Linked DNA regions of Homo sapiens. The protein of the gene in region 2 purifies or fractionates together with the protein of the main gene of each other region. This does not show direct contact. Each region holds a gene or a part of one and is shown on either strand. Other genes may lie near its edges. The genes, in order: NETO2, NLRP10 and ATG2B.

What was found.
Region 1: the proteins of NLRP10 (region 2) and NETO2 purify together in Homo sapiens (affinity purification with mass spectrometry; one large-scale study listed by BioGRID and IntAct). This does not show direct contact.
Region 3: the proteins of NLRP10 (region 2) and ATG2B purify together in Homo sapiens (affinity purification with mass spectrometry; one large-scale study listed by BioGRID and IntAct). This does not show direct contact.

Annotation. Positions count from the first base shown.
Region 1 is NC_000016.10:47,137,409-47,141,069, forward strand, and holds part of NETO2 (neuropilin and tolloid-like protein 2 isoform 1 precursor), read right to left. Parts: intron 1-3,661. UniProt on the Homo sapiens protein: Accessory subunit of neuronal kainate-sensitive glutamate receptors, GRIK2 and GRIK3.
Region 2 is NC_000011.10:7,959,682-7,962,547, reverse strand, and holds part of NLRP10 (NACHT, LRR and PYD domains-containing protein 10), read left to right. Parts: intron 1-1,225; coding exon 1,226-2,866.
Region 3 is NC_000014.9:96,278,603-96,281,087, forward strand, and holds the end of ATG2B (autophagy-related protein 2 homolog B), read right to left. Parts: 3' UTR 593-2,485; downstream 1-592. UniProt on the Homo sapiens protein: Lipid transfer protein required for both autophagosome formation and regulation of lipid droplet morphology and dispersion.

The DNA.
Region 1 (3,661 bases), on a different chromosome or scaffold from region 2:
CTGAAAGCAACAGTGAGAGGTGGCCTTTTCCCTCCTTTGGTAGTGGCAGGAGACATGTTTGGACCAATATGGATTGGGCAGGGCAGGGGTGGGCGAAAAGGAGTTGAGTCGATTTTGGAAACGTTGAACTTGAGGTGAAGGCTCTACTATCTATTCTTATAAGGGCTCCAACAAATACTTCTTGTTTCTGAACATCTGCACTTGCCAGGGACCTTGGACCTCTTTGCTTCCATGAAAGTACATTTTCTAAAACCTGCTTTCTCCAGGAACCCTTTCCAGATTAATTTTACTTGACTGCATTCAGACTTTTCACTTCTGATCATTCAACAGCTCTCCATCTGTTTTTTAATTTTTTTGTTCTTATACTGATTTTGCACACTTCTATGTTAGCATTAGGTTTGGCATGAGTAACAGAAATACCTAAACTAACAGTTTAAAACAAGATAGAAATACATTGCTCTGTCATGCGAACAAGCTGGACATAGGGAGTCAAGCATCAGAGTGAAGGCTCTATAAATACCAGGACCTGGGTTCCTTCTGTCTCACTACCCAGCTGTGAGAGGCTCATTTCCAAGGTCACCCTATGGTCCAGTATGAGGCTGGAGTGCCAGCTATTCTATCTTCATTATAGCTCCCATGTCTGCATTCTAGTTATCAAGAATGATGACTTGATAAAGGGCATTCTCTCTTTCTTTAAAAACACTTGCCCAGGGCCAGGCGCGGTGACTCACGCCTGTAATCCCAGCACTTTGCGAGGCTGAGGTGGGCGGGTCATGAGGTCAGAAGTTCAAGACCAGCCTGAACAATATGGTGAAACCCCGTCTCTAATAAAAATACAAAAATTAGCCGGGCATGGTGGCACACGCCTGTAGTCCCAGCTACTGGGGAGGCTGAGGCAGGAGAATCGCTTGAACCTGGGAGGCAGAGGTTGTGGTGCGCCAAGATCGTGCCACTGCACTCCAGCCTGGGTGACAGAGCAAGACTCCATCTCAAACAAAACAAAACAAAAACACTTGCCCATAATCTACAATGATTTCAAAATAAAAGTTTAAACAACAAAAACAACAATTCCCCTAAGTTGCACACATCATTTTCTACTTATATCTAACTGGCTAGACTTAGTCACATGGTCACCTAAACCAACAGGAAACTGGTAAATAGTCTTCATTTTGGGGAACTGTGCGCTCAGTTAAATTCAGAGAATTACTGACAAATAGTTAAATGGACATTTCTAGACAACTGGAAGTTTCTGCCACAGTCCCTATAGTGTATTATGTACACAGCAGCCAGTGACCTTTTCAAAATACAAATCAGATCACATCACAGCCTTGCTTAAAATCTTCCAGTAGAGTCCCATTATAGTTAGAACAACTCTGTGCCCCTTACTCTGACTTCGGAGGTACTATGTGACCTGGAGCCTGCGTGTCTCTCTGGCCTTCCGAGCGCTCTCTACTAGAACACAGGCCGCCTTCCCATCACTCAAAACACATCAAGCTAATTCTTGCCTCAGGAACCAGCTGTGCCTTCGGCCTAGAATCTCTTTGGCTGATTCCTTCCTGTTGTTCAGGTCTTGTGAGGCTTTCCCAATTTCTAAATAAGCGCTACATTTTCTCCTTCATTTTGCTTTACTTCATTATTATATTACCTGGTATTTTGAGTCTTGTTGGTTGTCTGTCTCTTCTCACTAGAAAGAAGGGCCTTGTCTGTCTGATTCACTGATGCATCTCCACAGCCTAAAAGACTGTCTGGCCTCAACAGTATTCAATACAGACACGATGAACACATGGGGGTGACTGAGCGCGACTCCAGTGCATCTTCTTTGTAACCGCAAACACATAGCACAGTAACTGACAGGCACACATCTTGGATGAACAAACAGTAGCCACACATGTGACCTTGCTTTTTTAAATGCGAGCACAAATCAGGGGATGGGAAAAGAACTGAGATTCCCCCCCACCCTCCTGAGATACCCTGCCACCACTGTTATTTTCCTCAAGCTGGCTCAATTTACCTTTGTTAGTAATTAAGTGTGTCTCTTTCTACATCTTCCTGTGTTAAGCAACTCAGTGGTAAACATAAAGCTTTTAAAATCCAACACAGAGAACCACCTACCTGGTCTCTCTGCTCATTACCATTTCCTATAATGACAGCAGAACAGAGTTCAATTAGAGTCCACATACTATTTGACATGGCAGTCACTTGTTTTTGATAAACTATGTTCCAAAGAACAAAAAAAGTACCCAAATTTAATCAAACTCAATCATACTTTACTAGTTAAGAACAAAGATGGATGGTGAACTTTGGGATCACTCCAGCCTACATATGCTAATGACATGCCAATCACTTTAGTAAGAAAGAGTAACTCTATAGCAGAAGTGCTTTCTCTTTCCTGCAGAATGTGACAAACTCCTCCTTAGTCGAGCTGATCTGAGATGGCGCTTTTGTAAGCTGTATTTTAATTACACATCAGTCCTCCTGACTGTACAGTGACTACCATCACCTTCTAACATGATCAGGTCATATTTGAAAGACTACTTGGTATCTTCTAGTGCTGTAATTTCCAATGTTACTCCAGGCATATTTAAACCAACATGTCTTAATGTCATTTTGATTAGAAAGGACTGAACTTTCAGATTAGTATACCCTGTAATTTTGGAAGCAATATAACAAACCCGTTGAAGTGTCAGTTCTTGGAGCCACCCTGGTGTTTGAGGTGACTGAGAGGGCAAGGCCTCCCACCAATCACAGCAACTCTGTTCTGTTGTCCTTTTTCCTTTTTTTTTCAAGTGCTTCCTCACAAAAGTTCCTCTGAAGTTTGGAAACCATTGGATTAGACCACCTCTTAAGATGCTCCTTTCCAACTCAAAGATCATAATAATTTCAATCTCCAGTGCCTCAGGGAGACGTATTTCTAAGTATAAATAATTATTCTACAGGAGCGTAAGTTGAAAAATGATAGGAGATTGTGCTGGATGGGTGGTACCCCAAGAGAAGGAGGTAGTCTATTGTTTTAAAATTTCAGATATGAACTTTATTTCTAGTCTATCATTTTTCTATCTTTTCTAAAAAGGACTGAAAATGGCTTTGATTTCAACTTGTTTTGTCATGCAGGGTTTTTCCTAAATAGTGATTTTAATTTCAAAATGAAAGATAAACCAGATTGCAGTTGAGGATTTACTACAAAAAAACCATTATTTAATAAGACTTTTCAATTGACAGTGTTAAAACAGTTTTTCCCAACCCCTGGAAGGAAAAGCCAAAAAGTTGATTTTTAATAAGGCTTTAGTATTAAAGGACAAGTTTTTCAGTACCACACTTATTTCTGTATAACTAGTTTATAGTCCTGGGTGAAATGTAAGAATGAAAAACGAGTTAATACTTGCACCGTCTCAGACAAGATTTTTAAATACAGTGCCAAGGAATATTTTTGCTGTTACATTACAAATTTAACCAGTTTCTACAGCTTGAAATATTGCTGAGTCGAACAGATTCTCCTGAAGCAAGTGTGCAGAATAAGAACAAAAAATGGATTTATAATCCTCATGTAATATTTTCATGAGACTATAATGCTTAGTTAACCTTGACAGAAGATTAACTCGAATTCTGTGAGGCCTAGAGTGATCACAGCTAAAAGTGAATTTTTTAGTTTCAACAACATAGG
Region 2 (2,866 bases):
AACAGGCTTATCGGCTGGGCGCAGTGGCTCACGCCTGTAATCCCAGCACTTTGGGAGGCTGAGACAGGCGGATCACGAGGTCAGGAGATCGAGACCATCCTGGCTAACACGGTGAAACCCCGTCTCTACTAAAAATACAAAAAAATTAGCCGGGCATGGTGGCGTGCGCCTGTGGTCCCAGCTACACGGGAGGCTGAGGCAGGAGAATGGCGTGAACCCGGGAGGCGGAGCTTGCAGTGAGTCGAGATCGCGCCACTGCACTCCAGCCTGGGCGACAGAGCGAAACTCCATCTCAAAAAAAAAAAAAAAAAAAAAAGAACAGGCTTATCTTAGTCCCTTTGGTATTGCTATAAAGCAATACCTGAGACTGGGTAATTTATAAAGAAAAGAGGTTTATTTGGCTCATGGTTTGGCAGGTGGTACAAGAGGCATATTGTCAACATTGACTTCTGGCGAGGCCTCAGGCAGCTTTCAGTTATGGAAGAAGGCAAGGTCAGAGCTGGTGTGTCACATGGCAAGAGAGGGAGGAAGAGAGAGGGGAGGAGGTGCCAGGCTCTTTAAACAACCAGCTCTTGTGTAGCTAATAGAGCAAGAACTCGTTCATTACCGTGGGGAGGGCCCCAAGACATTCATGAGGGATTTGCCCCCATGACAAAAACAACTCCCACTAGGCCCTGCCTCCAACATTGGGGATCACATTTCAACCTGAAATTTGGAGGGGATAAACACCCAAACTATATCAAGGCTCCTATCACTTCACCATCCTCAGGCATCCCTTTCCTTTCCCCTCTCTCTGTCCTCACCTCTTCACATGGAGACATTTCACATGAACACTCAGACATTCATGCATTCTCACACAGGCATTTTGCACTTACATGTATTCTTACAGACACACACTTGCTGATGCACACTGACATGACTTCCCTCCACAACAGTACATGAAGGTCCACGAGCACATGTGGATACCAGCATTCATGCACAACTATCCACACACACAGAGCACACCCTTGCACACTCATACAGATGTGCATATGCATACTGCGCCTGCACACACACACTCATGCACACATACAGTGGCCCCTCCCCATGAAGCCAGAACTATAATCTCAGCAAGATCCAAGTTGGAGACATACAAGAAGACTAATGAGCAGAGTCAGTTTGGAGGGGCCATTTTGCCTTCTAAAATTCCCATTTCACTACCTAACATCCCATTTGTTTGGCTCAGATTACAGAGAAGTATACCGAGAGCATGTGCGCTGCCTAGAGGAATGGCAGGAAGCAGGAGTCAATGGCAGATACAACCAGGTGCTCCTGGTGGCCAAGCCCAGCTCAGAGAGCCCAGAATCACTTGCCTGCCCCTTCCCGGAGCAGGAGCTGGAGTCTGTCACGGTGGAGGCTCTATTTGATTCAGGGGAAAAGCCCTCACTGGCCCCATCCTTAGTTGTGCTACAGGGGTCGGCTGGCACTGGAAAGACAACTCTCGCCAGAAAAATGGTGTTGGACTGGGCCACCGGTACTCTGTACCCAGGCCGGTTTGATTATGTCTTTTATGTAAGCTGCAAAGAAGTGGTCCTGCTGCTGGAGAGCAAACTGGAGCAGCTCCTTTTCTGGTGCTGCGGGGACAATCAAGCCCCTGTCACAGAGATTCTGAGGCAGCCAGAGCGGCTCCTGTTCATCCTGGATGGCTTTGATGAGCTGCAGAGGCCCTTTGAAGAAAAGTTGAAGAAGAGGGGTTTGAGTCCCAAGGAGAGCCTGCTGCACCTTCTAATTAGGAGACATACACTCCCCACGTGCTCCCTTCTCATCACCACCCGGCCCCTGGCTTTGAGGAATCTGGAGCCCTTGCTGAAACAAGCACGTCATGTCCATATCCTAGGCTTCTCTGAGGAGGAGAGGGCGAGGTACTTCAGCTCCTATTTCACGGATGAGAAGCAAGCTGACCGTGCCTTCGACATTGTACAGAAAAATGACATTCTCTACAAAGCGTGTCAGGTTCCAGGCATTTGCTGGGTGGTCTGCTCCTGGCTGCAGGGGCAGATGGAGAGAGGCAAAGTTGTCTTAGAGACACCTAGAAACAGCACTGACATCTTCATGGCTTACGTCTCCACCTTTCTGCCGCCCGATGATGATGGGGGCTGCTCCGAGCTTTCCCGGCACAGGGTCCTGAGGAGTCTGTGCTCCCTAGCAGCTGAAGGGATTCAGCACCAGAGGTTCCTATTTGAAGAAGCTGAGCTCAGGAAACATAATTTAGATGGCCCCAGGCTTGCCGCTTTCCTGAGTAGTAACGACTACCAATTGGGACTTGCCATCAAGAAGTTCTACAGCTTCCGCCACATCAGCTTCCAGGACTTTTTTCATGCCATGTCTTACCTGGTGAAAGAGGACCAAAGCCGGCTGGGGAAGGAGTCCCGCAGAGAAGTGCAAAGGCTGCTGGAGGTAAAGGAGCAGGAAGGGAATGATGAGATGACCCTCACTATGCAGTTTTTACTGGACATCTCGAAAAAAGACAGCTTCTCGAACTTGGAGCTCAAGTTCTGCTTCAGAATTTCTCCCTGTTTAGCGCAGGATCTGAAGCATTTTAAAGAACAGATGGAATCTATGAAGCACAACAGGACCTGGGATTTGGAATTCTCCCTGTATGAAGCTAAAATAAAGAATCTGGTAAAAGGTATTCAGATGAACAATGTATCATTCAAGATAAAACATTCAAATGAAAAGAAATCACAGAGCCAGAATTTATTTTCTGTCAAAAGCAGCTTGAGTCATGGACCTAAGGAGGAGCAAAAATGTCCTTCTGTCCATGGACAGAAGGAGGGCAAAGATAATATAGCAGGAACACAAAAGGAAGCTTCTACTGGAAAAGGCA
Region 3 (2,485 bases), on a different chromosome or scaffold from region 2:
GGGCATCCTAATCCCATTCCCACAAGGAGAGCCACAAAAGGTGAGGAATGGCCATTGGCTCACATGACTTTGAGGCCAGGGCAGGCCCAGAGCTGAGAGGGGATTAGAGAAGAGCTACCAAGTCTTCACTTGGCTCAGAGACAGCCACGAGGTGCCTGTGGGCTTCCCTTACCCTGTGCTGCCCACCATGTGCTGAGTATTTCCTTCCTAGCACCTGTCTGTCACATGGAGTGGTCACATCTCTTGCTGGGACCCTGGCTGATACTGAATGTGAATGTTACATTGTCAATACTGATACTGAATGTGAATGTTACATACCCTGGCTGATACTGAATGTGAATGTCCCCCTGCCCTGGTGAATGAGGCAGGGCAGTGTAATACACTGGGTCTCAGAACTTGTCTGCACATGAGAACCAGGGGATCTCTCAAAAATGCCAAAGCGCAGCCCACACCAAAGACCAGCTAAATCCCAATCCCTGGGGTGTATTTTTAAAGCTCCCCAGGGGACTAATGTGCAGACAAGTTTGGGAACCATGACACAGTGGCCAAGAGTGTTGTCGAGTGCCAAGCAGAGGAGTCGCCACATAGGAAATAGTCAATCAATGATGAACTTTTATTTCATATATATTTATATTTTAAAAATTATTACAAGTATTGCTAAAATCAAGAAAACGTGAGCTTACATTGAATAAAGGACATCTGTAAGTAGTAATCATGTGATCTTGGGCAAAGAATTTCCCCTCTCCGGGCTTCGATTTCCTCACCTGCAGACAGGACTAGATGACCACTCGGGTTCACTCACTCATTCATTCATTCATTCACTCATTCACCATTTGCTGATCCCTGACTCTGGGCAAGGCACTGTGCTAGGCACCGGGTCCCTAAGTCCCTTGCCCTCCTGAAGGAAGTCAAACAGGGAAACAGACGTGGATCTACAGTATGCGGGGAGTGCCGCAAAGTTTAACAAACAAAAAAAAGGAAAGCATGCTATAGTGGGAAACAGAGAGGAAGGGAGGGTGGCCAGGCTGCCTGAAGTGGAGCCTCCGGGCTGAGACAGCAGGAGCAGCCAGAGATCCCGACAGAGCATCCGAGTTGGGGCGGCCATAGCGCGTTCTTGCCCCAGGCTGTGCATGATTTTCCCCAGGAGAGCTCTTAGCCCAGTGATTTTTAACAGGGGATTTTTGTCATATTTGGCATATTTGGCCATGTCTGGAGACGTCTTTGGCTGTCACAACTGGGGGAGGGGAGTTTGTTACTGGCATCCAGTGGCCAGAGGCCAGCGGGGGGTGGGAGGGTGGCAACATCCCCTGCATCCTACAATGCACAGGCTGGTCCCAAATGTCAACTGCTGAGGTGGAGAAACCCGACTTTAGCCCCATTCTGAGATTTTGCTTTAATCAGTGTTGACTGTGGCCTGTGGTGCAGCATTTATAGAAAGAAATCTTCCAGGTGGTGCTAACCCCTACTCACGGGCATGCAGAACTGAACCGCTGGGGTGGCTAAGCACAGCCAGAAGAGGGGAGAGGGGCTGGAGACGCCAGGAAGAGATCAAGCACATTTTCTTGCTCAAATATTCTAAGAGCCTTTAATCTCAATCTTCTAGCAAAATTCTGTGGTTTCCCAATTAGTGAAGACTTTTTGCTAAGTTAGGTAACTGCTCCAAGCTTTTCTTAAATGAAGTCCTGGGAAGAGCATGAGGTCTGGAAGTCAAACCATGTGACGGTGAGCAAGTTTCTTGACCTCTCTGAACCTGTCTCCTCATCTGGAAAACAGGGACTCTAGTAACTGCCTCTGAGTGGGGGCTGTGAAATTATAAAAAGACAGTAGGATACTTGGCACACAGTAAGCATCTCACAATTGTCCCCATCCCTTTTTTCAACAAGAGCCATGGGTGAAGTGTGACTTGTCATTTTTTCCCTAATTGTTCAAAGTGGATGTTATATAGTCACATCTGTCACAACAAAATCTTTTAAAGTAAATTGCCCTTAAAAATAAGTATGTCTGGCCAGGCACGGTGGCTCATGCCTGTAATCCCAGCATTTTTGGAGGCTGAGGTCAAGAGTTCGAGACCAGGCTGAGGTTAACCTGGCCAACACGGTGAAACCTCGTCTCTACTAAAAAAACAAAAAATTTGTGGGGCGTGGTGGCAGGTGCCTGTAATCCCAACTACTCAGGAGGCTGAGGCAAGAGAATCGCTTGAACCCAGGAGGTGGAGGCTGCAGTGAGCTAAGATTGCTCCATTGTACTCCAGCCTGGGCAACAAGAGCAAAGCTCCGTCTGAAAAAATAAATAAATAAAATAAAAATAAGTATGTCTTTTAAATATTCCCTTCATAAGTAAAAATACTCCTCCAAATAGTTATCAGTTTCGTGATATCAAACTAGGAGGTGTGTTTGCTGCAAGTCCTTATTGCAGGGATAGGATAACTAATAGAGGGACTAAAATCCAAAGCAGGGAGGGAAGAACTGTTAAAACTCCATACAGC